4 linked regions of the Homo sapiens genome follow. The protein of the gene in region 2 interacts with the protein of the main gene of each other region in a pairwise test. Each region holds a gene or a part of one and is shown on either strand. Other genes may lie near its edges.

Evidence for each region.
Region 1: the proteins of REL (region 2) and EIF3A interact in binary tests that used the Homo sapiens proteins (3 or more experiments, as listed by UniProt).
Region 3: the proteins of REL (region 2) and POFUT4 interact in binary tests that used the Homo sapiens proteins (3 or more experiments, as listed by UniProt).
Region 4: the proteins of REL (region 2) and PCYT2 interact in binary tests that used the Homo sapiens proteins (3 or more experiments, as listed by UniProt).

The regions. Positions count from the first base shown.
Region 1 is NC_000010.11:119,056,636-119,063,862, forward strand, and holds part of EIF3A (eukaryotic translation initiation factor 3 subunit A), read right to left. Parts: intron 4,694-7,227; coding exon 4,589-4,693; intron 4,477-4,588; exon of another isoform or gene 4,348-4,476; intron 4,210-4,347; coding exon 4,111-4,209; intron 3,504-4,110; exon of another isoform or gene 3,376-3,503; intron 3,084-3,375; coding exon 2,967-3,083; intron 2,763-2,966; coding exon 2,577-2,762; intron 1,669-2,576; coding exon 1,321-1,668; intron 406-1,320; coding exon 301-405; intron 219-300; coding exon 105-218; intron 1-104. UniProt on the Homo sapiens protein: RNA-binding component of the eukaryotic translation initiation factor 3 (eIF-3) complex, which is required for several steps in the initiation of protein synthesis.
Region 2 is NC_000002.12:60,912,352-60,919,578, forward strand, and holds part of REL (proto-oncogene c-Rel), read left to right. Parts: intron 1-4,525; coding exon 4,526-4,666; intron 4,667-5,839; coding exon 5,840-5,944; intron 5,945-6,042; coding exon 6,043-6,255; intron 6,256-7,227. UniProt on the Homo sapiens protein: Proto-oncogene that may play a role in differentiation and lymphopoiesis.
Region 3 is NC_000010.11:73,767,382-73,775,320, reverse strand, and holds the start of POFUT4 (GDP-fucose protein O-fucosyltransferase 4 isoform 1 precursor), read right to left. Parts: upstream 3,046-7,939; 5' UTR 2,988-3,045; coding exon 2,280-2,987; coding exon of another isoform or gene 2,219-2,279; intron 2,187-2,218; coding exon of another isoform or gene 2,155-2,186; exon of another isoform or gene 2,132-2,154; coding exon 1,506-2,131; exon of another isoform or gene 1,501-1,505; intron 1-1,500. Other genes in the region: protein transport protein Sec24C, read right to left, coding at 4,226-4,366, 4,523-4,612, 4,850-5,041, 5,306-5,485, 5,588-5,706, 5,836-5,974, 6,169-6,314, 6,415-6,511 and 1 more. UniProt on the Homo sapiens protein: Protein O-fucosyltransferase that specifically catalyzes O-fucosylation of serine or threonine residues in EMI domains of target proteins, such as MMRN1, MMRN2 and EMID1. Attaches fucose through an O-glycosidic linkage.
Region 4 is NC_000017.11:81,901,255-81,908,481, forward strand, and holds part of PCYT2 (ethanolamine-phosphate cytidylyltransferase), read right to left. Parts: intron 6,604-7,227; coding exon 6,519-6,603; intron 6,345-6,518; coding exon 6,300-6,344; intron 6,004-6,299; coding exon of another isoform or gene 5,950-6,003; intron 5,645-5,949; coding exon 5,506-5,644; intron 5,293-5,505; coding exon 5,210-5,292; intron 4,924-5,209; coding exon 4,846-4,923; intron 4,482-4,845; coding exon 4,416-4,481; intron 4,194-4,415; coding exon 4,128-4,193; intron 3,901-4,127; coding exon 3,812-3,900; intron 3,691-3,811; coding exon 3,579-3,690; 3' UTR 1,495-3,578; coding exon of another isoform or gene 1,366-1,494; 3' UTR 1,273-1,365; coding exon of another isoform or gene 1,024-1,272; 3' UTR 1-1,023. Other genes in the region: NPB (neuropeptide B preproprotein), read left to right, coding at 1,024-1,272, 1,366-1,494. UniProt on the Homo sapiens protein: Ethanolamine-phosphate cytidylyltransferase that catalyzes the second step in the synthesis of phosphatidylethanolamine (PE) from ethanolamine via the CDP-ethanolamine pathway.

The sequences.
Region 1 (7,227 bases), on a different chromosome or scaffold from region 2:
CTAGCAGAAGAATACAAAATAAAGCAATTCTGAATCCTTGGTTCCATTACTGGCAGAGGATTTTATTACAATCTAAAAATATTACAATTAAATAAAAAACTTACTCTTTCTTCCTCTTGTTGCTCCCACAGATCCATGTCTTTAATTCTCTGTTCCTCGTAAGCGCTCTTTATCAAAGGAATTTCTTCCAAACGTTTGGCTCTTTCAAAATAGTCAATCTGAATGACACGAAAACACACGTAGTTTTAAAAAATCTCTCTTAACTTGGTATGTTAAAGGTTTACCAACCCTTTCATTTACCTTCTTTTCTTGATTCTTTAGGCGTTCTTGAAGTTCTTTCTTTTCTTTCTCCAGTTGTTCAACCTGTTTAGCCATGATAAAATCTGGATCCAATTCCTCAAGGTCCTGAAAGGTAATACAAATGCACAATTGTTAATAAAGAGAAACAAGCAATGCCTAACATAACTCACTGCTTTCTAGAATAAAATCCTACATTGCTTTTATTGTTACAATGGGTGATAATTTAGGAAATGTAAAAATATTATACAATAGCCTTATTTCCATTTGACCATAAGGAAAAAAATATCCATACATCCTTTTCTCACTACTCCAACCTACATCTACCCAGACTCTACTAAATAGGGTAAGCAAACCTAATCCAAAAACCCAAAATCTGAAATGCTCCCAATTTTAAAACTTTCTGAGCACCAACATGGTGCCACAAGTGTAAAATTCCACACCTGACCCATGTGACAGGTCAGTCAAAATGCATTCAAAACTTTGTTTCATGCACAAAATTATGTAAAATAGTGTACAAAATTACCTTCAGGCTATGTGTATAAGGTGTCTATGAAACAGGTCATGTGTGGTGGCTCACACCTATAACCCCAGCAATTTGGGAGGCTGAGGCAAGTAGATCACTTGAGGTCAGGAGTTCAAGACCAGCCTGGCCAACATGGTGAAACCCTGTCTCTACTAAAAATACAAAAATTAGCCAGGTATGGTGGCAGGCGCCTGTAATCCCAGCTAGTTGGGAGGCTGAGGCAGGAGAATCACTTGAACCCGGGAGGCGGAGGTTGCAGTGAGCTGAGATCACGTCACTGCACTCCAGCCTGGGCGACAAGATAATACTCCGTCTCAAAAAAAACACAAAACTTCACAGAGCAATAAACATATGCTTACTCACAGATTTAGTCATGACCAGCTGTACCAAAATGCATGAAATAACCCAGTAAGCCAACAAATGGTAAAGGACTGTGGTTCTAAGAGTACAAAATACCTGGATAAAACTAATTTTTTAATAACTAAGATGCTACGTACTTCAATATCAATATCTTTGAATGCTTTGGCACCCAGTTCTGTTTTCTTGATCTGCTCCAAACGCTCTCGGACAGTTTTCTTTTTGATTTGTTCATGTTCCTGTAAGATACGCTCCTTCTCTCTCTCCTTTGCTTCCTGGCGCAGCCTCTCTTCCTCAGCCTTCCGCACTTTCTGGAGTTCAGCTTCCCTCTGTTCCAATTCTTCTTTCTCACGCTGAATATTCAGACTCTCAAGGCGCTCTTTTCTCTCCTCAATTGTCTGGCGGCGAGCCAGGATCCGCTGGTGCTCTTTTCGTGAATTTTTAAGGTATGCAGTGACAGCCAACTGATGCTGTTCTTCTTTCTCTTGCTTCAAAAACAAATGAATTTTTTTACATGACCAAAATTAACATTCTCTGGTATTAGGCATCAAAGAAATTACAAAATAATCCTGATGTACTGCCTTTCTATGTATCTGCATTTGATAATGGAAGATGACACTATCCAAGCTGTTTGTTTTCGGTATTAAATGCTATGGTGTTGCTCCTATTCAGTCTTTTAATAGCAATGACGCAGCTAAAGAAGCTCTCCTAGATAAGACAACTTTTCTCTGCACCAAACCTACCTTAGGTGTTCATTAACAGAGCTCACATACAAGAAATAACTTGTTACAGGCAGTGGCTCATGCGTGTAACCCCATCACTTTTGGGAGGCCAAGGCGGGTGGATCACTTGAGGCCAGGACTTTGAGACCAGCATGGCCAACATGGTGAAACCCCATCTCTACTAAAAATACAAAACATTAGCTGTGCACGTGGTACGTGCCTGTAGTCCCAGCTACACAGGAGGCTGAGGCACAAGAATTGCTTGAACCCAGGAGGTAGAGATTGCAATGAGCCGAGATGGCATCACTGCACTCCAGCCTGGGTGAGAGTGAGACTCCATCTCAAAAAAGAAAAAAAAGAAATAACTTAAGCAGGAGGGAAAAATCCAGTCACTGTATTTCACTATTTGAGGAATCCTATGTCCACTCTGTTGTTTCTGTAACATAATCCACCCTATTACATTACCTACACAGAGTAGTATTTTGTTCAATGGAAGAAAGCTCAATGATTTGTGTATTTGATCAAATAACAAAACTACCAAGTACAATTCTATAGGAAACATATCATAAATCCCTTCTCTCAGATATTGTCTCAAACCTTTTTGTAAAAGACATGGCATGGCGTTAAGAGTCCCTCAAAACTTCTGGGATTTATTTCCCCGGGAAGATGCATACCAGTATATGAGCTGGTTTAATGACTTCAAGTGCTTTTGCAAGTACTGAGGACATGGCTGTCAGCTGGTTTCTTATCTGCTCTGAAGGCATGCTTTGCAAATGAGGACCAATCGGAGCATCTTCTCGAGTAGCATAATTCAAATCAGATCCAAAACTCAGGGTCCGAGAAGTGTGATCAATACGAACCTTTGAAAATTAAATTATCAATGGTTAAATCCACAAGTAAGCATGAAGTCAAAAAGTAACAGAAGAATGTCATATACAAAAGCTGGAAAAGTTCACTCAGTAAACTTTAAAATGGTATCACTGTACCAAAAGCTGAGAAACAGAAGGTATGTGTCTTTCTAGCCCTCAAGGGCCTTCTCCTGTCTCCTTACAGCACATACCTACCTGCAAGTCGCAATGCCTGGCTGCATCTACTATGGCCCGTTCCAGTTGGAAAGCATCAACAAAAGGAACCAAAGAAGTCAAACGAGAAAACTCAATGCTCTGATAAATCTGTGACACCTGCATAGAAAACAAAGGGTTAATAACACTAGCCACTGTTTATTCAGCACTTTTTATGTGCAATCTCATGACAGTCATGGGAAGTAGAAATTATGCCAGAGAATTTATGTTAGCAGTACATTGTTAAAGCCAGAATGCTAATCCCAGACCATCGACTCTAAACTCCATGCTTTGAGAACCATTATCATACTATTCCTCAAACCTATAATCTTTTCAAATCCTAGTTGTTGTAAAACAAAAAAGCCTAAAAACCTGCTACTTACCGAATATATTTAAACACTTCTTATAGAATTTTTGTCTGAAGGAGACTGGCAGCATTACTATTTATAGTTATACTGCTAATTAGCCTTCAATTATTTGTATAGCACATAAGAAATAACACTACTCACATAAAAGAAAGCAGGTCAATGAAATGTGCACAAATACTGAGATGAAAATATAATAAAACGCCCTCCTTCCCAAATGCAACAAATGGAAAACAAAATGGGAGCACTTACTGACTTAAGCCCCTGGACTAAAATATATGAAAAGGCTGTCTCATTCACTCATGGTGGGGGGTCTATTAATCCAGGCTTCTGAATAGCTATTAAAGCTTTAAATCCATAAACCCTATGACTAATTCCACTTCTTATGCCACAGAAAGTAATAGAAGTATGCAAAGATACATGTATGAAAGATGCTCAATGCTACAAGATTTCTAACAGGGAAAAAAAAAATCTAGGAATACAGGTTTTCATCAAGAGAGTCTGAATAAATACACCACAGTACCTTAAATGGAATAAGGTAGCCCTACATTACTAACAAGGAAAAATGCCCAAAGACAGTGTTCAGCCAAAAAACAAAAGCGTCCGTTACAAAATATGTAAATATAATAATTCTGATTTTCAAATTAATAAATAGACTAATTTTTGCCAGGGGCAGAACTTGGGGAGGTTCTCACTTCCTAGGCAGTTCTAGATTTTTCCAGTTTTTAGTTTCATGATGAGCACATAACATCACAAAACTTTTTTTATTTTTTTATTTTTACCTGCTGCAGAAGGCGGAGGATGGTGTTGTTTTGCAGTTGTGGCACATACTGCTGCAATTCCGGTTCCTTTTCAGGTTGTTCCCTAACCCAATTTAGAACCTATAAAATCCATTAAATTGAAAGAGAATCACACTTTCTACATAAGAGATACTAAAACATCTAAAACTCTTTTTTTTTTAATATACAAAAACATCATCCAATGCAAAGAAATACAAAATGTATCATGAAGCTACTGATACTTGTTTGAAGGTGACTGGCAGCAATGGCTAAATTAGTCATGCTGCTAATTAACCTCCAAAGGTTTGCTGAGCACATCAGATATATCTTTTCTCTTGAAATAAAGAAAAAAGACAATGAAATGTGCACTGAATTCCAACACATAGGACAAAACTTCTCTCTTAACAAATATGAATACAACCCAAAACTGCAAGAAGGCCAACTCTGTGGTAACAACCAGAACTTAAATACAAAGGCTTACCTTTGTGACTCGCTCACAGAGTTTTAATGGGTTAAATTCTACTTCAAGCCAATTGTAAAGGTCTTTCACTTCTGGGACAACATATTGTAGTACATTAAATCTGACCTACAGTAAGCAAAACAAAAGATGTAACTGCCAAAGGAAATTTTCCAACTAAAATTCTGAACTTAGTATAAATGATAGCATTGGAAATCTGGAAAATGATTTAAAAAATCATCAAGCCTCAACCTCCTCTAAATTTACCAAAAATGAATCCAAAGTACAACTATGCTGGGTCTTTTGCCCCACACTATGCACATTAACCTACCGTGAAAAGCCCCACAAGTATGTAAAAAGGAAATGAAACTCTAAAAAACACAACTACAACCAATTAAATATTCACAAAGACAACTACTGTGGCCAATAGAATATTTTATTACCAATAACAAGGAAAATACCAGTTTTACTTTTATATAAATTATCACACAAAAATTATCATGGCAGCACTATTTCTAATAGCCCCAAACTGGGGAGAATTCACATATGGTGTATTCATAAAATAAACAAAAATGCTCAAAAAAGAACAGCTACATAGAACACATGAATAAATCTCACAAACATAGCGGTGAGAAAAGAATTTCACATATTACCCCATTTATATGGACTTCAATTTTACCATGGAATATGTCATTTTTTTTAGGAACTGTTAACCCAAGGACAAAATAACTGCTGGGATAGAGCAAAGCACAGAAGTGTGTACCCATAGAGAGTGGGTGACAAAACTGAGGCAAATATTGGCAGATCGCATCCCCAAGCAAGGAGGGCACCCACACATGGGAGCACTCAGGTCTAAGGTTAACTCTAATGTAAAATGGGTACAAGGCTGAAATCCTACAACATTCTAACACTTCCTCCTTATAAGCATCCATATATCTTTACTGCAATAAGGTGTGGTATATGCATACAAATAAAATTCCCTAACTTAGAATCTGCCTTTAAGAGAAAAAAAAAAATTCCCAGCTCTAATTTCATTCCTATCAAGTTATTTTAGATTCTTCATGCAGTCCCCTTCCGAATAGGGAAATGTGAAAGGCTGCCATAATCTACTAAATTATATTTCTCACTAAAATACATGATTGGTTTACTTTCCGATTTAAAAGTCACTCTTAGGAATGTTTGAGTCTTTTCCTGAGATAATGGAATCACTCTGTCTCATAAATTTGGTTATGGAAGCCTAACGCTCAGGTATTGACCTTGGATATATGGTCAACTCAAGAAGTTGACAAATGCCTCTTGGCAGTCAGCTAATCCATTCACTTGACACTAACTGGTATCCTTCTAGAAGTCTACACTCTGTGGGCACAATGAGGACTCTAATCTAGATGCCCTAGTTGTTGGTCCAATGCTACCCATCAGTGATCACCGAATGACTTGCTCACAGAGTTTTAGTGGCTCAAATTCTACTTCCAGCCAATTGTAAATGTCTTTCGCTTCTGGGACAACATATTGCAGTATATTAAATCTAAGTCTAAGAGATCACCTTTTTTTTTTTTTTTTTTTTTTGAGATGGAGTCTTGCTCTGTCACCCAGGCTAGAGTGCAGTGGCACGATATCAGCTCACTGCAACCTATGCCTCCCGGGTTCAAGCGATTCTCCTGCCTCAGCCTCCCGATTAGCTGGGATTACACGCATGCACCACAATGCCCAGCTAATTTTTTTTTTTTTGTATTTTTAGTAGAGACGGGGTTTCACCACGATGGCCAAGCTCGTTTCAAACTCCTGACCTGAAGTGATCCACCCGCCTTGGCCTCCCAAAGTGCTAGGATTAGACGTGAGCCACCGCGCCTAGCCAAGATCACCTTTAACAAGGTGACGTGGATTATCCTTCCAGTGTGGCACGTTTCTTCAGCTTTAAAAATTAGAAGCAAATTTTTTATTAGCAAATGTTTTATTTGCTAATGAAACTTCTTTCTCAAGACACTGCTGTTGCTTTATTACATTGAGTCCTACATCGGCCCCATAAACAGAAAGTTGAACTCTGTGGGCAGTGGCAGCAGAAAAAAACATGGAGGAATACAAAGTAGAAAAAAAGCTGCTCTGCAGGAACTCTTTGCAAAAGTTAGCTACAAAGTGAATCTGCATTACTATGTCACAAAGGAAAAATGCCACTATCTAGAAAAGTTATTTGTTCTTAAATTGACTACTGCAGAAAATTTAGGCCTTTTATCTAGCTTTTATCAGAGTGAATATAGGTGTTTCCTCAGAATACATTTCAAAAATATCTGAGAGAGCCTGCCATTATCTTTTTGATTTCTTTATTGCTCTATTCATGAATTAGGGACTGTTAATGATTTAAATTCCGTTTTTGGTAAACATACAGCCAAGTACTTATCCCTCTTTCTCTTACCCCAAAGTAATCTACTGGAGGTGATTCTAATAACCAAGTCAGACTATTATGATAAGAATCCCTAGAATCTCAGCTCCCCTAGAATACAACTTCTGCCTTCAGTTTCACTTGCTAGGCACATAACAGGCACTCAACAAATTTCCACTGAATGGAAGATTCCATCAATGCGAAACACTAAAAAGATACACAAATCTGGCCGGCACGGTGGCACACCTGTAATCCCAGCACTTAGGGAAGCCGAGGGGGATCGTTC
Region 2 (7,227 bases):
TGGTCTTATAAATTTAGTGATGTTTTTGTGACCCATAGTCTGCCGTAGAAACTTAACTCTTATTAATATTGATTAGCCTATGGTAAAATTGGTTTTATTATGGTGTTGTTTCGCTTGAAGTTGCAATTTCCAAGAACCTATAGACATCATCCTAGAAGACATTAAGTGAAGACTTACTGTGTATATAAGCAGATTTGAAATTAAAAATATAAAAGATCTTCTGAAGTTGCAACAGTGCTCAGAAGTATTATAAAATAGAAATAAATCATTTCCAAAAGAGAGATTTCATTTTTGCCCAAAATCTTTCTTCTAAGCTATAAAAGACAAAACTGTTCAATACACAGTTTTGTCAATTTAAATCTACATATTCACCCAATTTTTATAAGATAAAATAAAAATGTATAATTATTGAAAAAAGAATTGAGAGCCCAGAAACAGAGCTAAGGAAATATGCGACTTTAGTGTATGACAGAGGTGGCATGTCATATCAAGAGGAAAGGAGGAAATGTTTGAGAAATGAAGCTTGAAAAAAAAATAGTTATTTAATTAAGTCGGATTCCCTACCTCACATCATATACAAATATCAGCTGAAGATGGATTAAAGGCTTTAAAAGTGAATCAACATTTTAAAAACTTTTGGTAGACTATGTTGGTAAACATTTTAATCCTTGAGGTATAAAAAGACAAGACACAAAGTGTTTTCTATAAAACTTTTGATAAATTTGATTATATTCTTAATTTCAATTTATTATATTTTTCAGTTCTAGAATTTGATTCCTTTTTTTCAGTTTCAAGTTCTCCAGTAAACTCTCAATCTTAATTCCTTGAATATATTAAGTATAGTTACTTTAAATTATATGTCTGAAAACTTCATTATTTGGATCCTTTGTGGTATGTTTTTATTGCCTGTTGCTTTCTTTTAAAAAAAAATTTTTTATTTTGCCTCCTCATATGTGTGGTTATTTAAGATAAAATACCAGTCATTTTCTGTGAAAAAGAGTAAAGATTTTAGGCCTACAATATTATCTCCCTGCAGAAAATTTTCTTCTGGCTAGTGGCCGGGTACACTAGCAATCCCAGGTCACCTAAAATCAGTGAATGATTTAGGTTATTTGAAGTTGGGCTTTCATCCCTGAAATCTGATATGTTTCCAGTTCACCCTTACTCCTAGGGTATAGCTCTTTCAGACCTCAAATCCCCCAAAGCCTTGGGTATTTATCAGATCCCACATCCTTGGCAAACTCTCAACTCCTTTATTTTTTCCCTATAGTTTATTGAGAGTTCATCTCAATCTTCTTAACCATCTCTTAGAAAATTGTCAGGCTATATTCAGATAAAAGTGGCCTCTCATTCTGAACTGTGGGTTTTCTTCTCTCATATCTTGGTCGCATGGTTTTTCATGACCTTGTTAGCTCTCTAATGTCATTAGAGAAATTTTGTTTCATATTTTGTCCACTTTATTCTCATGGTTGAATTGGTCCAGTTTACAGATTATCATCTATCATTACCAAAGTAGAACTTCTTTTTATTAACGTTTACTTTATGCTTTCTTCAGTAACTTGTAAAAGTATCTAAATGTTTGGTTGTTCAATAGGACTTTAAGTAATTCTTCAGTCATTTATGTTAATTGAGAAAATGTATAATAAATATCACTACTAGGTTCAACACCTAGTGGAGATACATCAGACATCCCTTCTGACTTCATTTGAAACTTTGTCTAATAGGATAGAAGAGGCATACATAAATGATTATCATGTAAGATTTTAAAACTTTTAAGGGCATAAGAAAGGTATAGGTCAAGTCTTGCACTGATTTAGAGAGGAGAAATATTCCCTCCATTGCAGAGGATGAAGTTAGGCTTTATAGAAAAGAAGCTTTGAGCTGGGGTTTCAGCCTTACACTGAATCTTGCATTGGGTAAAAACGGGTATCTGTCATGATTCTTGCCTGTCAGTAGTTTTTAACCATGTTGTGCAGAGATGAAAGTAATTCTGATGCAGTAGTAATTGTATTTCCACACATTGAGAAGATTCAAAGCAAAATCTCATAAACAGTGATTTTTTTTGAGAAGTAAGTAGAATTTCTTCCCTGTAGTAGAACTATTATGTGACTAAATGTTTTTGAACTTTGGCTTATTGACCAGTTTGTTTATTTTTCTTTTATGTGCCATTTAAAAATATTTAAAATAAACTTTTATTGAGATACAATAAAATCTACCCGAATATGTCCTGCTACATAACCACAATCAAGCTATGGAACATTTCCATCACCCCCTAAAATTTCCCTGGTCCCCTTCTCGCTCAGTTCCCTACCCTGCCTCTGCCTCAGGCAATTACTAATCTGCCTTCTGTCACTGGAGATTAATCTTTTCTAAAACTGCATGTAAATGGAAGCATACAGTATACTTTTGTATCTGGTTTCTTTTGCTCAACATGGTTTTGAGATACATTCATTTGGGAGTGTATACCCATAGCTTGTTTTTTTGTTTTTTTTTTTTTTTTGAGATGGAGTCTTGCTCTGTCGCCCAGGCTGGAGTGCAGTGGCACAATTTCGGCTCACTGCAAGCTCTGCCTCTCGGGTTCACCATTCTCCTGCCTCAGCCTCCCAAGTAGCTGGGATTATAGGCGCCCGCCACCACGCCTGGCTAATTTTTTGTATTTTTAGTAGAGGCGGGGTTTCACCGTGTTAGCCAGGATGGTCTCGATCTCCCAACCTCATGATCCACCCACCTCGGCCTCCCAAAGTGCTGGGATTACAGGTGTGAGCCACCACGCCTGGCCAGTTTGTTCTCTTTTATTGCTGAGTTTATTCCATTGTAGGTCTATACCACACTTTGTTTATCCATTCACAGAGTTCACATAGGTTTGTTTTTAAACTTACCAGGAACATCTAGCTACAAATTTATCTTTTTTGCATATTGATTACTCATCTTTGCAATTGAGAGACACTAATATCTTGAATGCTACATTTATAATGCTGTAAAAATGGATTTTGAAGAGGTAGCTCTCATATTGCCTACACAATAGTGCCAGTAGAGTATGCTGCTGTAACACAAGTGTTGGTATCATAACATTTTGACCTTTCAGTTGTACAGAGTACAGATGTGTTTTTATGCACTGTTTCAAAGATTAAGCATAAGAATGCTAATACTGGGATACTTATAAATGTTGTGATAGCTAAGTAGACTCTCAATGTCATTAAATAAAAACAGTACAAAATACATTATCAGTTTTATTAGTTATTGCCTGTAAAATAAGGAATTTGGGCTTAACTATGTTTCTAAATTTAGTGTTTCAAAATTTAATACTTTGCAAAGTAAAATTGTTATGTAAATAATGTGCATGTCTTGCTTTTTAAAAATATGACTTATTGCTATAGCTTATGGCATTTGAAAAGGCAATATTTTCTTTTGGAACTGGATTTCTGGTTCAAATACTAATTTAACAAACTATTATACTATATTCTATCATGAGCTTTTCTAGTTTTATAGAACTGTAAAATTTTTAATTAAAACATTTTTTAAGTTTGCACGTAAAATTTCTTATGGAAACTAGCTATCTTAACATTTTTTTGTTTCTTGGTATTTCATCCTTAAAATGTTGATCCACATTTAGTAGATACTCTTGTGTATGTCATTTTTATGTACAACACATGTACAATTTTCTAATAGATTTCAATTTTTAAAAGCATAGGCTCTAAATTTAATGACTTGAGTTCACATTTCCACCCTGTCACTGTGAAACTTTGGGCAAGTAATTCATCTCTTTACAGTCAGTTCCAGGCCAGGCTCAGTGGCTCACGCCCATAATCCCAACACTTTGGGAGGCCAAGGTGGGTGGATCACTTGAGCCTGGGAGTTTGAGACCACCCTGGGCAACATAGTGAAACCCCATCTCTACAAAAAAATAGAAAAATTAGCTGGGCGTGGTGGCATGTGCCTGTAGTCCCAGCTACTCAGGAGGCTGAGATGGGAAGATCACTTGAGCCTGGGAGGCGGAGGTTGAGGTGAACCAAAATCGCATCACTGCACTCCAGCCTGGGCAACAGAGTGAGACCCCCATGTCAAAAAAACGAACTAAACTCAGTTCCTCGTTTGTAAAATGGGGATGAAAGTAATTCTTGTACAGATTTAGGAGATAATTTACAGAGTCCTTAACACAACAACTGGACCAAATACATACTTGTTGAATGAATGGGTAAATGCCATTCTTTGTTGTGTACAAACCTGCAACTATTTTTTAAAACTTTGATTTGTTATTAATGTCAACTTGGGATTTTGCTTTAAATCCCAGGTGAGGGGATAGTTACTTCCTGAACATGGCTATAATTTATCAAATACTGTTAGATAGTGATTACTTGATAAGAATGATAAAAGGCATTCTTGAGATTGTATACTGTTCTATTTTTATTCATACATATTTGGATGCTATTCAAGGTTATTGGCTATAATGGGCAGGGAGGAGGACCTAGCAAGTCTTTAGGTCTATGTGACTATTACATTTAAAAAATTTTTTTTTTCTATTCAGTCCCTGAAAAACAGCTGAATGATATTGAAGATTGTGACCTCAATGTGGTGAGACTGTGTTTTCAAGTTTTTCTCCCTGATGAACATGGTAATTTGACGACTGCTCTTCCTCCTGTTGTCTCGAACCCAATTTATGACAACCGTAAGTACTTCATTTTCTTATATTTGTAGTCTTAACTTGTTTTTTGTAATAGTTTAATTCTTAAAATTATTTTGGTAATTAGGAAAACAATATATTCATGATAGGAAAACTTCCAGACATTAGAGAAATATATAACAGAAAGGAAATCTTCTCTAATCTCATCCTCCAGAGATAATCACTATCCTTAGGTGCATATTTTACCAGTTTCTTCTTCCTGTATATACACAGATACATTGTCATCATCATCATTTTTGACACAGTACAATTTTGGCAACTTAAAATCATAAGTGATGATTGTTTTAAAAACTAACTTTCTTCTTACCATATATCTTGGACATTTTCCTTTTAATCACCTTATTCTTTTCAGTAGCAGCATATTTTATTATGTAGTTATATCATAATTTTATTAATTACCCTCTTACAAGGCATTTGGTTTGTTTCTTTTCTCATTTTTTCTTTTTGGCCTAGCAAACTGTACTGCAATACATATTCTTGTATATTTTTTTTTATTGGTTTTTTTTTTTTTTTTGGAGACAGGGTCTCACTCTGTCACCCAGGCTGGAGTGCAGTGGTGCAGTCATGGCTCACTGCATGGCAAATGCTGGCTCAAAGGATATGGATATATCTCATTTTGAAAGATTATGAAACTTTCCCCCAAAATACTGTGTGTGTGTGTGTGTGTGTGTGTGTGTGTGTGTACGTGTGTGTGTGTGTACATAGACTTAGATATACGTCCACCAATGGTGTATGATATACCTGTTTTATGTGTAGAAGGATAGAGAGACTTAGGGCTATAAAGGAAGCATGAAAGTTGTATTGCCATAGGGAGATGTATTGCCATAGGGAAAATTGTATTGCCATGGGGATGTGGTCATGATTTATGAAGATTAATCTGGTGACAGTGGGTAGGATTGATTGGCGGAATCAGAATTTAGAAGCAGGGAGATGTAATTAGAGAATATGTCATTACCTAGAAATGAAGCCACAAAGTCTAAAGTAAAGCAGTTAGAAAGGAAGTGGACAGATAAATAGATGATTAATGTATTTAGTGTCATTTATCTATACACTAAAACTTTTATTCTGTGAATGCTTTTCCTCAAATTCTTCCCTGCAAAAAGAAATAAAATATTACTAAGGTAGCAACTCATTTTTTTGAAAATCCTTTATATTTAGGTGCTCCAAATACTGCAGAATTAAGGATTTGTCGTGTAAACAAGAATTGTGGAAGTGTCAGAGGAGGAGATGAAATATTTCTACTTTGTGACAAAGTTCAGAAAGGTATTTATTTATTTCATTGAATTTAGAATAAATTTTAGATTAATAGATGCAGTTACTTTGTTTTCCCATTTTTTTTTTTTTGGTTTCTTATTGACTAGATGACATAGAAGTTCGTTTTGTGTTGAACGATTGGGAAGCAAAAGGCATCTTTTCACAAGCTGATGTACACCGTCAAGTAGCCATTGTTTTCAAAACTCCACCATATTGCAAAGCTATCACAGAACCCGTAACAGTAAAAATGCAGTTGCGGAGACCTTCTGACCAGGAAGTTAGTGAATCTATGGATTTTAGATATCTGCCAGATGAAAAAGGTATGACATTTTGCTGGTAATAATTTATATATTTCTTGAAGTGGTCCTGCTAATAACATCTTCTTGTAATATTCATTTGAGTACAGTTATGTATATTCATAATTTATGTTTCTTTTCCTGGAAGCTTTCTGTTGGTTTTTTCTTTATGCTCTTTGCATCTCTTTATTTGTTGGGTTGTTTTTTGTTTTGTTTTGTTTTGTTTTTGAGACAGAGTCTCACTGTCACCCAGGCTAGAGTGCAGTGGCGCAATCTTAGCTCACTGTAACCTCCTCCTCCCGGGTTCAAGCGATTCTTCTGCCTCAGCCTCCTGAGTAGCTGGGACTATAGGCACGTGCCACCACGCTGGGCTACTACTTTTGTATTTTTAGTAGAGACAGGGTTTCACCATGTTGGCTAGGCTGGTCTCTGCATCTCTTTCTTCAAGAAGAGGTTTGATTAGTATGGAATAATTTCAAAGTATCTAAACTGCTTACTAAAATTTCTATTTTATTTTTGAAGGTCTGTTTTAGTCTTTGTGCACTTACCACTCAGAGAGTAGTCTCTATATTGGTTTCTTATCAAACCTTATTGCATTAGTTGACATTATTGACTTGTGTGATAAGAAAACAAGATGAATATTTTAAACAGCTTGTTTTGGGTTTTTTTTGAGACAGGGTCTCACTCTGTCACTCAAGCTGGAGTACAGTGGCATGATCGTGGCTCACCAGAGCCTCAGCCTCCTGGGCTCAGGTGATCATCCCACCTCAGCCTCGTGAGTACCTGGGACTATAGGTGCGCACCACCACACTTGGCTAATTTTTGTGGGGTTTTTTTGTTTTTTTGTTTTTTTGTTTTTGAGATGGAGTCTTGCTCTGTCTTGCCCAGGCTGGAGTACAGTGGCGCAATCCTGGCTCACTGCAGCTTCTGCCTCCTGGGTTCAAGCAATTCTCCTGTCTCAGCCTCCCAGGTAGCTGGGACTACAGGCATGCGCCA
Region 3 (7,939 bases), on a different chromosome or scaffold from region 2:
TACGATTCCTGACTTGCCTGCTTCTGGCTCCCAAATGTGGAGGGGGTTCAGAGGCAGGCAAAGCAGAGGCCAGACTGGAAGTGGCAGTCTCCATAAGGAAAGCAAGGGGGCAGGGGTCTTTAGATGATTATCTTTTAAGTTTCACCTTTATGCCAATAATCAAAATGAAGGTGCATCAAAATGAAGTAGCATCCAGTATCTAGAAAAGACATAACCTGAATATTTATTTTCTTAATGTTTCATATTTTTTCATACTTTTCCTCTAGTAAATCATATTATGTTCAGATACAAACAATTTGTAATTAGATACAAATTACTTGGTGAAGGATTCCAACCATCAGGACAAAACTGCCAGCAGCATCTGTTAATAAATGGCCTTCTGCTGCCATCCACTGTCCAAGTCGGTTTCTATAGGCCATTCTAGCAGCCTTACTTCAGCTTAATAATCTTATCACCTCTCCCCCAATAGGTGTGGCTTGCTACAAGTGGTTTCAACATTTTCCCACCCCACACCACACGCTGGCCTTGTTTCCCAGTACCACCACCTTTTGCCACCTACTACAGTAGCCTATTCGCTTCCCTTCTGATGCGCATTGTGCATTGTTTTGTGTGTGTGTGTGTGTGTGACAGGGTCTTACTCCAACCCAGGCTGGAATGCAGTGGCACGATCCTAGCTCACTACAGCATTGAACTCCTAGGTTCAAGCAATCCACCTGCCACAGCCTCCCAAGTAGCCAGGACTACAGGTATGTGCCACCACCCCAGGCTTTTAGTTTTTAAATTGTACAGAGAGGCTCTTATTATATTGTCCAGGCTGGTCAATATATTATATTATATATTATATTGTCTCTGGCCTCAAGTGTTCCTCCCCCCTTGACCTCCCAAAGTGCTGGGATTACAGGTGTGAGCCACCGTGCCCGGCCATGCCTAGTTTTTCTAGTTACACAGGCAGTGTGTCCCCACCTGCACCAACTACATGGGGCTCATCCTCAGCACAGCCGCTTAAAAAAAAAAATTATGGCTGGTTAACAGGTGTAACCCCTGACTACTGCAGAAAAGCCTCTCTAAAAGTGCTCTTCTCTACTGCCCAACCCCATTTCCACTCTATAAAAGGTGCTCAAATAGCTGAGTTGATTTTTAGTGCAGTGCAAACTCCTGAACCTGGTATTAATGATATTTATAGCCTTGTCCCTATTTATTTGCCCCATTTTCTCTCTCCCCTGTCTGCACAGGCCCTGTACTCTGGTTCAATCTTTTTGAACCACTACTGGAAACATTGTTCACATAAGCTGATTTTCATACGTTGCCTTGAATTATATTTTACATCTATTCAGCTTTTTCAGCTTGTCTTATCCCCCCAACTAGACTGTTGACACCTTAAATACAGAATGAGCCCATGTGATAATTTCCTCCTGCACCTGCTCAGCACCTAGTGCTACTTAATTGCCCACAGTAAGCAAGTAAGTAAATGATTTGATAGCTGCAGGGGACCCCAGCACTCTTACCTGTCATTCTCAGGAATCTCTTCCACATTGCCAAAGCCAGGTGTGGGCACTGGGCAGTCCATGTGTGAGGGCTGGGCAATGTGGGGCTCAAAGACGGGGCTGTCCCCGGGAGAGGCCGCGTGGGCTTTCTCGGCATCCAGCCGAGCCAGTTCGTAGTCACAGACGAAACACTCGAAGCCGTTGAGGTAGTTAGGCAGCAAAGGATCATTCACTCCCCACTCCCGATGCTTCAGACTATCCAGAAGAAATTGGTTGGTGATGCCCCCAGGTTGCTTGTATGCCAGGTATTTCATATACTCCTCATCATTCTTGTCCAGAAAGTCAATAAACTCTGCCAGCTTCTGAGGAGACTCAAAATCATCAATCAGGATGACGGAGTGATTGTTCGGCATCCAGTCCCTCACAGAGGGAGAACCGCGGTACACGGGCACAGCGCCCAGGTGCATGGGACGCCACAGTTTTTCTGTCATGTAGTCGTTACAGATGGCATTTTCCAGGGCCAAGTGGAACTTATAGCGGGACAAGAAAGCCAAGAGCTCTGGATCCTCGGTGGTGGCCGTGGCTGTGTCCTGTAGCCGCGCGGTAGGCAGCTCCCGATTCTGCAGGCATTTCCCGTAGGAGTCTACCTAGACCGGGTACAGTAAGGCTGTCATGAGGGTGCGGCCCTGGAGGCCTGGACACCTGGAGTCCTGGACACCTGGAGTCCTGGACACCTGGAGTCCTGGCCTCAACCCGCCCTCTCCTTTTCCTTCCCTCCGGCCCGCCCTCACTCACCGGGATGTGGCGCATGAGCTCGCGCACGTAGCGGTCCCGGTCCGCTGGCACGTCGCAGTGTGACTGCAGATAGAGCAGCGGCGCGTAGCCGCGGCGGCGCCACTCCGCGCGTTCCATGGGCGGAGGCACCGGGCGGCGCAGATAGGCGGTCCCGGGCAGCCACTGCAGCGACAGCGGGTAATCCGAGTGGCGACTGAAGGTGGAGGTAAGATTGAAGAGGCGGATGCCCGGGCCGTGGCTCAGCAAGAAGTTGTTGAGGGGCGACTCCTCGTGGAGGAGCGCCCAGCTCTGGTGCGCCAGGCGCGGCAGCGGGGCGGCCGACGCGCGGAAGTCTGTGCCGTAGAAGAGCAGCGCGCGCGTCCGCGAGTCCCTCAGCGCTCGGCGGTTCCGGGACGCCACGCACGCGCCGCGCGCACACTCGATGCGCTCCGAGTCTCCCGGGAAGTGGGGGAATAGCCCTGGGCTCCACCACAGCAGTACCGGCAAGTCCCCCGCCTCCTCCCTCCCTGGCCGCGGCGTCCCAGAGCTGCGCGTCACCCCCACTGCGCCCAGCGCCGAGGGCGGCCGGAAAACCGCGCCATCCCACGGTTCCGCCCACTCCGCCTCCCCGCCGGCCTCCCTCTCCGCTACGGACCCATGGCCGCTGGCTGCACAGACACTGAGCACCCCTAGAAGGACCAACACCACCCTAATGGGGCCGGCCGCCATGTCCACTCCGGCAGCCGGCGCCCCCTCGGCCAGCACCGACCCCGCCCAGCGGATAGTCGTGACCGGACGAGGCCCTACGCCACGGGGGCACGTGGCGCATGCGCAGCTCGCTCAGCCGACGGCCAGGACTAAAAGCAAAGTGAGCTTTCGGGAGTAAAGATGAGGCTAATGGTTACATCTTAATTTATTTTATTTCTTTACAAATTAAAGATGCATTGAAAAATAAACCAATGAAGAGAAATGAGAGGTCCAGAGCAGGGGCATCCCAGGTGGGGAGCAGGCAAGCCTGGCCACCATCAAGCCTAGCCCTTGTCCTGCCCCCAAGCCAGTTGGGGTTGGAAGATAACTGTCAGCCACTCAGTCAATACCAAAGCCCAAGCGGTGTCCCAGCAGGAGAGAACGGCGCTCCAGCTGCCTCTGCCTCTCTCCCCAACAACCCCGGGCCTGGAGAAGCAGTGTTTCTCGTGGGAGCTCAGAGTGGGATGTGAACTGGCTCTGTGAGGTATTGCAAGTTGATGACCAGGCTCCCTAGGCTCCCTACAGAACCATCCAGTGTTGGGGCCTCTCCAGCTGGAAAGGAAGCTGGTACCTCTACCAGATCTTAATATATTTTGCAACTCAGTTCTCCGGTCACCTCTGACAGTGTGCCTCTCTATCCACGGAGTGATCATCAATCATTGCAGGAGAGAGCGAGCGAGCAGTGAAAGCAGAGAAACTTGACTGCTAACCTCCAGGCCCAAGAAGGACTGACCACTTTTCTCTCCACCACCTATGGGCTATACCCCAGCTCTTGTGCACCTATATGTTTTATCCCTAATATAGGAAGTTGTGGATGACACTGAGCCCCCTGTAGTAACCTTAGGATCCCCACTCTTTCCTGCCTGCCCCTCTCCTCTTGGGAGACTGGTCCAAAGGGACACATAATATTGCCAGGGTCTGGGTGCCTCCAAACCCCCAATACCGAATCATATACAGTGAACTGAGAAGCTACATTCATTATGACAGGATTAGCAGGAAAAAGAGGGTAGAATGAGGGAACAGGGGCACCTTCCATCAGCAGGACATGACAGAGTGGCAGGATACTTGAGCCCAGAAAGAAGGTGTCTCCTTATATCTCCCCCTCCCCCCAGAGAGACTGAGGTCAGCTTACATAAGATATGTTACTGTCCCAATTTCTCTGACATCCTGGGGTGCTTTCTGGAAGCTAGCCTGGGCCCTATGCCATTTACCCACTTGCTTTAGCTCAGTAGCTGCCGAATCTCCTTGTGCATATGACAGAGAAAGTCCACATAAGATGCTCCCCCACTCAGACTCTTGTCTTCCACCAGGAAGTGCTTGAACAGCATCTCCATCTTGTCTTCCTGTTTCACCACGGTAAGCTACGGCCAGAATTCAGGGTTCATAAGGCAAGGCCAAAGGAAATTAAACATGCCCAGAAATCTCATTAGGCAGTCACTTACTCATTCCCCACCCAACCCCCACTTCTAGGTGAGGACTTGACAAGGTAAGAAATCCAGGGTTCAGATCAGTGTTACCTTCATGTACCGGGATCTCTGTGCCCGTAAGCTATCAATGAGGCCTCGAACCTTCTTGGACAGTGGATTATCCAGAACTGGCAGAACACTCTAGAACACAAAATTCATTTATCCTTATGGTAAGGCACTCTGAGTTCAGTCAAGGTGGGGCAGCATACATGTATGCATCATCTGAAACAGGCAAACCTGGGAAGAATGACAGCAACTGCCCTTGTCCCCAAGTGTTCCCTGATATTTGAGGGTACTAGCACACTAACTATATTGGCTCCCAATTGTTTCACAAAGTATACTTCCACACCCATATTCTCCTTGACTCCCTGCCCTCACCAAACCACTGGTGATCTGACTGAAGGAGGAGACGCTGAAAAGGCTCTGGACAACACCCTGTTGGACGCTTGCTCCCACCCAGAGGAAGAGGTTGAGCCCATTCTCCAGTAAATATATATCCCCATTGCTTAGACGCTCTTCAGAGGCTCGAACTGCTGGTGGTTCGGTAGTACTCTCAACGGGAGACTTTGTCTAGACAAAAGGAAGGGAGCAAAAGGTTACCAAGGACCATAAGACAAGTCTGCCCCCCCGCACCACACACAAAATTTTGAAAGCTAAGTCCTCAGACACCACCCCTTCTGGGGTCTCAGTAACTCTCTCAGTGTGAAAATTACATCAGCTAAAATACATAAAAACAAATTCCACTAGTGTCTGACTGATACTAGCCTATCCTTTCCTCCTCCTAAGAGGCCCTTTGCTCCGTGCAAGATCTCATACTCCAACCCTCAATCGCACCAAAGGTAAGAGCCGAGGGTAGAAGAAGACATTGGTCTCAGTCACATCCATGGAGGTAACTAGCTGTCGGACATAGGCACGGTCATCAGTAGTGACTTCAGCTCCAGGCTGCAGGACATCACTCTTCAACACACAGTTCAGGTAAACTGGGAGTAGCTTCATGCACTCAGGAAGGATCAACTGAGGGGATTATCAAAATAAAGTCAATGATCATGAGAAATCCCTCCCAAATGCAAACATTTGTCCCAACAACCCCACCTCCCACTAATATACTTGCCCCACCTGTCCTGCAGAGGAGGGGCTAGCACAGTTCTTTCTGTAACAGGCCAGGATCTGGGCACACTGGGTGATGAGCGTGTCACGAACAGCCTTCACAGGGCTATTCAGGACTCCCCGATATGCTGGATGGGAAAGCAAAGATAGTCACTGGTCAGCTGCCCATCATGTGTGCATTCCCACCATCACAACTACCCACTCACCATCCTGGACCTCTCAGCCCCAATCCCACCCTGCCCTGCTTCTACCCTCACCAAACTTGGCCATGTAGTTGATGAGCGTGTCAGTCTCACAGTTTCGATATAGATCAGCCAGCTGGGTGCAGCAGTTCAGGGCCAGATTATGGATGCGGAGCCGACGCTGCCCTGCACAGCTGGTGTAAAGCAGGGCACACTAGGGGAAAGGAGAAAGGGGGAACTCACACCCCTCCCTCACAAAGGCCCTTTGCTACACTATTAAACTGGAAGAGAGAAATGAGCCACTCCCGTGCCCTGTCTCTTCTTTTAGTGCTCTCTACCCATTCCTCACCCTCTTCTATACCAAGCGAATGAAACACTTCCTGCCCAGCCCCGCCTCCCGCCTGCCACCTGCAGGAGAGCTCCGCTCTCTTCATTGAGCCGATCGTCATGCTTGAACTCCACAGTCACTGTTTTGTCCCCATCTAGCCCAGCCAGCTCCACATCTGTCGTGTTGCTCATGTAGAAAGCTCCAAAGAAATCTACAGCACGGATACCTGAGGCCACATGGACAGGGTCAGGGCAAAAAGTATGACAAGTGCCACATGCCTCCCTTCCATATTTAGCCCCCCAACCTGCTCTTCAATCAGGACTGACCAGTGCTTGTCCGGACCCGCATCACAGCATCAAAGCCAACAACCTTCTGGACATCACGACGCAGGTCACTCAGGAACCGCTCCTGGTCGTTCTCCACCTGCAGGCCCCCAGGTCCAGAGTCATGTCACTGACTAGACATAGCTCATCGTGCAGACAATCTCCCTGTACCCCTTCCACTCTACAAGGCCACCTAATTATCATCATCATAACAGTGAGGATGATAATGATGATGACAATAATAGCTTTTAAACACTTAGACTGCATGCCAGGTACCACACAGAGTGCTTTACATATAATTATTTAATTCTGTTGACAAATCCTACTTAAGTATTTTAACACCATTTTGCAGATGAAGGAACAAAAGAGGAAGTACTTAAGAAATTTATCCTAGGTCATGTAGCTAGTAAGTGGTGGGGCCAGAATATCAATGCAGGACTGATTCCAAGGCCCATGTTCCTAACTGCCACATTCTCGGGCTCACTTCTTCAGACTATGCAGTCTTCTCTTCCAACACTATTTCTTCTTTTTTGGAGACGGAGTCTTACTCTGTCGCTCTGGCTGGAGTGCAGTGGCGCAATCTCGGCTCACCACAACCTCCACCTCCCGGGTTCAAGGGATTCTTAGCTTCCTGAGTAGCTGGGATTACAGGCGCCCGCCACCACACCCGACTAATTTTTGTATTTTTCGTAGAGATGGGGTTTTGCCATGTTGGCCAGGCTGGTCTTGAACTCCTGACCTCAGGTGATCTGCCTGCCTCAGCCTCCCAAAGTGCTAGGATTACAGGTGTGAGGCACCGTGCCTGGCCCCAACACTATTTCTATTAATGAGTCAGCCACTGCATATATAAGCAGATATTCCCAGCCCTGCTGCCACCTGCTGCCCCAAATCCCACACCATACCTGAAAGGAAGCATATTTGTAGACAGAGCCACCAGTGAGCTGGGGCACAACAGAGAGTGTGGCCACATCCACATACTGGTTAGGGAAGAGAAAGAGATCTACACAGCAGCCTTGGGCCACACACTCTTTGGCCAGGGTCTGATAGGCACCTGTCTGAGGCTGGAACAGAGTCTAGGGGGAAAGAAAATGGGGAGAAGAAAATGTTCAAATATCTCAGCTCCGCCCTATTTGAAAACTGTATATCTAGCATGGGATATTCAAATTCATGGAAGACTTCAGATCTACTTCCAAGGATTTTCCAATAGTAAAAAATTTTCTTTTATATTATTTTTATTTTTTTGAGACAGGGTCTCACTCTGTCACCCAGGCTGGCATAGAGTGGCATGATCTCAGCTCACTGCAACCTCTGCCTCCCAGGTTCAAGCGATTCTCCTGCCTCAGACTCCCAAGTAGCTGGGATTACAGGTGTGTGCCACCACACCTGGCTAATTTTTGTATTTTTAGTAGAGACGGGGTTTTGCCATGTTAGTCAGGCTGGTCTCAAACTTCTGGCCTCAAAAATCTGCCCGCCTTGGCCTCCCAAAGCGCTCGGATTACAGGCATGAGCCATCATGCCCGGCCAAAAG
Region 4 (7,227 bases), on a different chromosome or scaffold from region 2:
TCCACGTTCCTCTGCCTGCTTGTATCCTGGCTGTGCTGGCAGCCGATTAGGTGGTGCCCACCTGGATTGAGGGTGGGTCTGCCTCTCCCAGCCCACTGACTCAAATGGGAATCTCCTCTGGCAACACCCTCACAGACACACCCAGTGACAATACTTTGCATCCTTCAATCCAGTCAAGCTGACACTCAGCATTCACCATCACACCTGGGAAGCATGGAACCCAGAAACAAGTGCCAGGGCTCCAGTGCCAGTGCCTGTCCTGGGAAGATACCCAAGAGAAGACATGACCAGGACCTTGGGGGAGCATGAAATGGTGAGGGCACAGTGAGCTTGAAGGCTGATGTCACCTGCCAGGAGAGCGGCTGGCAGTCCTGCCTGGTGCCCCCCAAGGGGCAGAGCTGGCAGAGAGGGGCCTCCAATCGAAGGCCAGGAGTCGTGGAGCTCCAGTGCCTTGGTGTGGCTGGCCTTCTTGCCCCCCTCCCAGAGGACCCCGCCAGTAACAGCCCTGCTGGTGGAACCTTCCCCAGTGGGCATGAAAGAAATGAGGGCCCCACAAGCCACATGGACTCTGATGCCTGGAGCCAAGAATACCCCTTAGGGTGGTAGAAACCGCCCCCGGGGCACTGTGCAGTGTGGCTGGCTCTCCAGCATCAGGAGTACTGGGGATTGCCTGGGGGACGACTCCTAGGGCTGGGCGCCCGTGGGCCCTCCCCTGCTGCCACTGCGGCCCACGCAAGCCGGGCCTGAAGGGCGCGAGCGGCATGGGTGGGGAGCTTGAGGGGGCGTTGGGCTCCCACCAAGCGCCAGATCCTTGCGCGCCTCCAGCGCTCGCCCGCGCGGCTGGTTCCTTTGGGATGCGGAGGTGCGACGGCTCCTCCGCGCGCGCCCGCTGCACCCCAGCCCGCCCGCCGCCCCTCCCGGCCCTCCGCAGCCTCGGCCCGCCCTCGCCGCAGATATAAGGCGGCCCAGGCGGTGGCTGCTCCGAGCCCGGACGCCGCCGCCCACCAGTCAGCCGGCGTCCCCATGGCCCGGTCCGCGACACTGGCGGCCGCCGCCCTGGCGCTGTGCCTGCTGCTGGCGCCGCCTGGCCTCGCGTGGTACAAGCCAGCGGCGGGGCACAGCTCCTACTCGGTGGGCCGCGCCGCGGGGCTGCTGTCCGGCCTCCGCAGGTCCCCGTACGCGCGGCGCTCCCAGCCCTACAGAGGGGCGGAACCCCCGGGCGGGGCCGGCGCCTCCCCGGAGCTGCAACTGCACCCCAGGCTGCGGAGCCTCGTGAGTCCGGCGTGCCGGGGACTGATGGGGGGCGGCGGCAGGACGTGGGTGGGGGTGCGGCGGCCCCTCAGCCTTTGCTTGCCTGCCCCCCAGGCTGTGTGCGTCCAGGACGTCGCCCCAAACCTGCAGAGGTGCGAGCGGCTCCCCGACGGCCGCGGGACCTACCAGTGCAAGGCGAACGTCTTCCTGTCCCTGCGCGCAGCCGACTGCCTCGCCGCCTGAGCCCGGACCTCTCCTGGCACCGCTGGGGGCCCCCCGCCCCCACCGTCCCACTCGGTGACCCCAGGCCCCTCCGGCGCGGGATGGCGCCCCAGGTCTCCCCTACTCCGCTCACCCCGCAGTTAATGGCAAACGAATAAATAAATGAGGCGGCCTCGGAGTGAGGGGTGCTGGAGGACTGGCAGCCAGGCCACGAGGGGAACGGGACCTGGAAATCCCCAAGCCTGGGTATGAGAAGGCAGCCGAGTGTGCGGCGGCAGGGCAAGGTTGGCCTGGGCCGCCCAGAGGTCTTCAGACCCAGGGGCGAAGCTGGCCACGACCCAGCCCCGCGGTGAAGCCGCGCCTAGCCTTGGTGCTCCCTGGGGGAAGTGCAGGGCCACGGCTGGCCCGGTTCCCAGTGTCCTCCCCCAGCCCTTCGCTCCCCAACTCGAGAGCCAAATCTGTGAGGGCATGGGCTGGAGCCCCTGGCTGCCTTCCTCTTGCCCCCATCCCTTCTGGCCAGGCCAAGTCCGAGGGTGCAGGGGCAAGGAGGAGAGTTGGGGGCCTGAGCCCTGGCTCCAGAGGCCCAGAGCATGCCTCCCCAGAGCTGAAGGTGGGAGATGGGTAGGTTCTCCCTCCGCCGTTGGGTGTGACTCCGGAACTGGCTTGGGCTCTGGCCTCCAATGCTGCTACGGGGCCAGGCCCACCTCCGGGCCCAGGCAGCAGCACTGCAGGGCCTTTCTACCCTCCCCAAGCCTGGGGCCCAGGCAGCCCCTGTCCAGCACCAATCTGTCTATGGGGAACTGGCTGGTCCCTCTGCTCAGGGGACCCCGCAGTCCAGGGTTCTGAGTGGGAGCATTGGCACCACCCCACTCCTGAAAGCGGGGGCCTGGCAGGATGAGGATGGCCTGTGCCCCCCACACCTTGGCCCCTGGCTCGGAGAGCAGGGTGACAGGCTGCCTTCCTGGGCTGTGGAGAGCCTCGCGTGCACCTCGCCTCCAGCTCCTGTGCTGGGTCGTGAGGTCGACCTCACAACAGCAGAGGACAGGCCCATGGGGTGCCACATGGGCCAGGTGCTGTAGGGCAGAGGCCATTCTGGAGAGGAATGTGGGGCTGAAAAAAGTACTGATCATAAGCCTCATTTTGAATGCGGCGAGACCAGGCAATCTATGGCCTCCCTAGACACCTCCCGGAGGCTGCAGTAAGAACCTCTTCGGCCTCTGGGCTGCTCCAGGCGGGCCGTGACAGGGGTGTGGGAGACAGAGATCCCATGGCCCCTGGAGGGGCCAAGGGGCAAGGAGCCTCAGCTCTGGCTCTCCTCCTTATTCTAGCATCGCCTGCTACAGGGGGTGGCCCCAGGCTTTGGAGGGCTGGAGGCCTGGGTTTCACTCACTGCCAGGCTGCCCGCTGCACTCCCGGCTGCTGGGTGCATGGTGGGGGCAGGGCCAAGAGGGTCTCCTTGCTGAGTGGTTCCCTGGTCCTTCCCAGCAGGGCTGGGAGCCCCGCGCAGCACTGCCACCAGGCTTTATTCGGTTGTACCAAAGAGATTTCCGTCAGCCATGTACAAACAGAACAGAGTCCATAAGGAGAGTGGCGAAGCTGCCGGGAAGGAAGGCAAGCGTGTTTTCCTGGAGCCAGGCGCTGGGTGGCAGGACACCGTGTTGGGGGGTGCCCAGTGGGAGGTGGTGTGGTCTACACCCAGAGAACTAAAGGGGTGACCGCAGTCACTGCTCCCTAAAGCCCTCTGCTCTGCACCTCCCGCCACAGCTGGGTGGGCAGTCAGTGTGGCCTCTGTCCAGGTGGTGGGGGCATCCGGGGACCAGGTGGGGGCGCACGCAGGAGCGGTGCGTTTCAGGCTGCAGGTGCCGTCTGCCCGTCTCACTTCCGGCCTCTCCACTGTGCTGGACACCCTCTCTGAGCAGCTTTGCTGGAAAGAGCGGAGAGCCTGCTGCAAACCAGGCACCTTGTAGGCAGGCAAGGAGGCAGAGTCCTCACCAGCCCTTCCAGAGCCAGGCCAGTTAGAGAGGGCGGCCCTGCAGAGTCCTATGTCCAAACGCAGAAGGCGCAGAAGCAGAGCAGGGGGAGGGCCGGCCAGGGCCTCTGCCAGGTTAGAAGTCACCATCGCGCTCCCCCAGGGGCTGTGCCGCCTGCTGCCTGGCAGCCTCCAGGAAGGCCAGCTCCTTGGCTTCCTTCTTCTGGTTTCGCGCCTCATACTCCAACCTGAGAGGGCAGGGTAAGTCTAGCAGAGAGCGCCCATGAGGCGGCTCCGAGGGGGAGGGCACGGTAAGTCTAGCGGAGAGCGCCCATGAGGCGGCTCCGAGGTGCCCCCACCCAACTGCACCTGTTGGTGATGATCCGCTGGACGATGAGGTCTGTGGTGAGGTTGCTGCCACTGTCAATCTGACGGAAGATGCCCCTTCTCTTGGGCTCCTGGGGGTCCAGAGAGGAGGAGCGGGATGAAGGTCCCTGCTGACCTCCCCAAGACCCATCTGATGCCCTGCCCCAGAGGGAGACCAGCGCCCAGGGTCCCATGGGAGTGGTGCAGTCGGAGCAGCTGCGCCACCATGCCCGTTTCCCAGGCAGGCACAGTGAGTCATTAAATGGCTGGGAGGTGCCAATGGCAACCCCTGTGCCCAGCAAGGGCCAGCATGACCCACCTGGTATGGGTCGGAGCCATCCCTGTCAGGGATAATTTCTGTCTTGCCGTGACACACCAGGTCCACCTGGAGAAGGAGTGGGGTCAGGAGCCCTCCCCGGGGAGGCAGCGGCCGTCGCCACCCACAGCCCAGCACAGGCCCCGGGGGTTGGGAGAGCTGACCCTGCCCTTTCCTCAGCCCAGGTACCTCCTGGGCCCCGCCTAGGAGCCCACAGCCAGCCTGCATTCCCAGCCCATGCAGGAACAGAGGTGAACAGAGGGAACGAGGTGAGCCCATGCGGAGCCTCACCTTGAAGTGACTTAGGAGCTCTGCTGTGACCGCGTACGGGGCTCCAATCACCACTTCTGACACGTACTGTGGGGACAGTGGGGGCAGAAAGACTTGCTCGGTCCCTGCTACTGGTAAGCCAGGGCCACAGGGTGGTGAGAGACGGCTCAGACATGGGGCGGGGCTGCCAGTGAGTAGCAGGGATGGGCTGGGCAGGCTGGGGACCCCTGGGGCTCCTCCATGAGACAAGAAGGAACAGCATCTGGAGACCTGACCACCCCTCCTCATGCCTCAACAAACAGGTATGGGCAGGTGCCACAGAACTCGGGGTGCTGGGTGCAGCTCTGCCAGTGACCCAAGCCCCCCTGCCCTGGCTCAGGGAGGCCCTTAGTAGGGGGGATGTTGTGGGAATGTCTCCCCATCCTTGGGCTGGCTCCTGGCCCCCACTCACCCGGCAGGCCAGCACGCTCAGAGTCCGTTCATGCAGATTCATGATGGGGTAGTTCTTCCCCTTGTAGTGATTGACCTCCTGCGGCCAGAGTGCGGCTAGCTCAGCCCGGAGACTTTTTGGGGGGACAGGGTGTGCCCCTCCCGGCTGTCCCTCATGGGAAGAAGTCGGGGAGGTTGCTCGCCCTTGTGGGGATGCCCCAGACAGGACAGCCCTGGACCCCAGAAGCCTACGATCACCCCCCAGGGTCTCCTGTGACTTCACCTGGGGCCCCTTCCCAGAGACCACCTGCACCTAACAGCAACGCTTAGGGCCCCTCGAGGGCCCATCAGCTGCCCAGGGGCCCAGGGAGCAAGAAGGCAGTGACCTGGTCAAAGTGTAAGCCCGCGATGATGTAGGGCCTCTCTGCCAGCCTGTGCACCTTCTCCAGGAAGTCCACATGCCCGATGTCTGCACCCAGGTTAAGAAGCAGTCGGGATGGGGATGACAGGGAGCAGCTCCCTGACAGCTCATGCCCAAGGGCCTCCCCGCCATCCTCCCTGCTGACAGCTGCTCCCCTGCAAACCAGCCAGCCCAGTCTGGGGGCCCCAAGGAGTCAAGTGAGGCCCCCGGGTCCCACCCCATGTGGCACATGTAGGGGAGCAGCAGAGGCCCAGAGGATACGGAACAGGTCGAAGGCACCAGCCACATAGATGACTGTCTCCCCTGGCTGGGGCTCCTTCCCAGAAGCAAACTGGATGATCTTCTGAGATGTCTGCAGGAACTGGGATACCCCGGTCCAGGGGTTCCGCCCACCAGGGCACTGCAAGCCAAGAGAGGGAGCAGGTTGGCGGGGGAGGCCTCCCAGGTGCTGCCCTCACCAGGTCACCAAACCCTCAGCTGTCACCTGCCAGCAATCCCATTTCCAGCCAGTCATCTCGGGCAGGGGACACACTGCCAGGCCAGGTGGCAGGTGGGACTGTGGCGCCACCCCACAACCACAGCAGGCACCGCAGCAGACACCACTTCAGCCCAGCAAGCGACCACCAGGAGGAGGCAAGGAGCCCTGTGGCAGGTGCACACAGCCCTTGGGAGGGACCTGGTACCCTGAGACCACTGTCTGGTCACCTGGGAGCAGCCTTCTGAGGAAAGTATGTCCCCGGCGGGTATCGGGTGAGGGGGCTACAATGGGAGAGAGGGCCAGGCCACTTGGTTAGAGGCCACCTGTCCACAGGCAAATCCTTGCTCCTCCAAGCAGTGGCTGCCGTGACCGGCCAGCCGGTGCCACCACCCGCCTGCCCTCCCTCCCAGCATCCACCAGTGAGCCAAACCTGGCAGTCAGTGCCTGGTCAGTGCCAGGGACAGAGGGAGGAGGGTGAGGCTCTGGGCTGGCCTTTCCCCAAGGGATGGCTGGGACAGGTGGCCGGGGGAGCCCCCTGCAGCTGCGTGCTCAGCTCTCCCTGCACAGCCGCACTCACCTTGCCAAAACTGTCTGCATACTCCCGGTACTCAGAGGACATCTCCTGCACAGAAGGTCAGAGCAGGGCTGAGGGGCCTGCCCTCCCGGCGTGGCCACCCCAGAACCGGCTGGGGATGGGGAGCAGTGGGCAGGAGGACCCTGAGAGGGCAGGGAGGTGCCCCTCCTTTCCCCTGGAGACCTCGACCCAGGGGCCTCGGGGATTCCGCCGCCGACTCACCTGGCTGCTGTGATGGGCTTTGGTTACCAGCAGCATGCGGCCCACGAGGTCTGTGGTGGACACCCCTTGCGTGCGCTTGCATTCTCTGGGGGACACAGTGGGAGTGGGGTCTCATCCTGGGACACTCGCAAGGCTCTGCCTCCTGCTACCACCACTAGGGACACTAGCAGCCCTGCTGTGGCAGAACCCACGGCTGCCCCAAAGACTGAGGGTCCCCTTCCTGTGCAAGGCCATAACAGAAAACCTGGGTTGGGAACATGGGGAAGGCCTCCACGCTTTTATTGACTGAAGGGAGTGGCAGGAGCACAGAAAAGGACCCTTGCTGGGGCCCAGGTGTGCAATGCCAGGGAGAGGATGGGCACTGGGGTAGCAGCTCTGCTTCCTGCCTCCCTCACACCCACGTCCTGCCCGCTGAGCATCTGCAGCTGAGTGAATTCTCAGCTGCAGCATCTCATGCGGGAGCCACTGGCCTCATGTCCCTGACGTCTGGTAATTCAGATATAGTGCCAGCTCCCCAGCAGTGCCAGCCACGTCCCCCGAGCTCAACAGCTGCCACCTCACAAAGCTGTGCCTTTGGAGCCCTGGGGCCATGGGTCTGCAGCACCAAATGGCAAGGGCCTCCAGGCCACCCCACAATGGCACCTCCATCCCTCGAGTTCCCAGTCCTGGGCGTGAGGAACATGGCCCAGGGCCTGGACGCTCCCCTCAC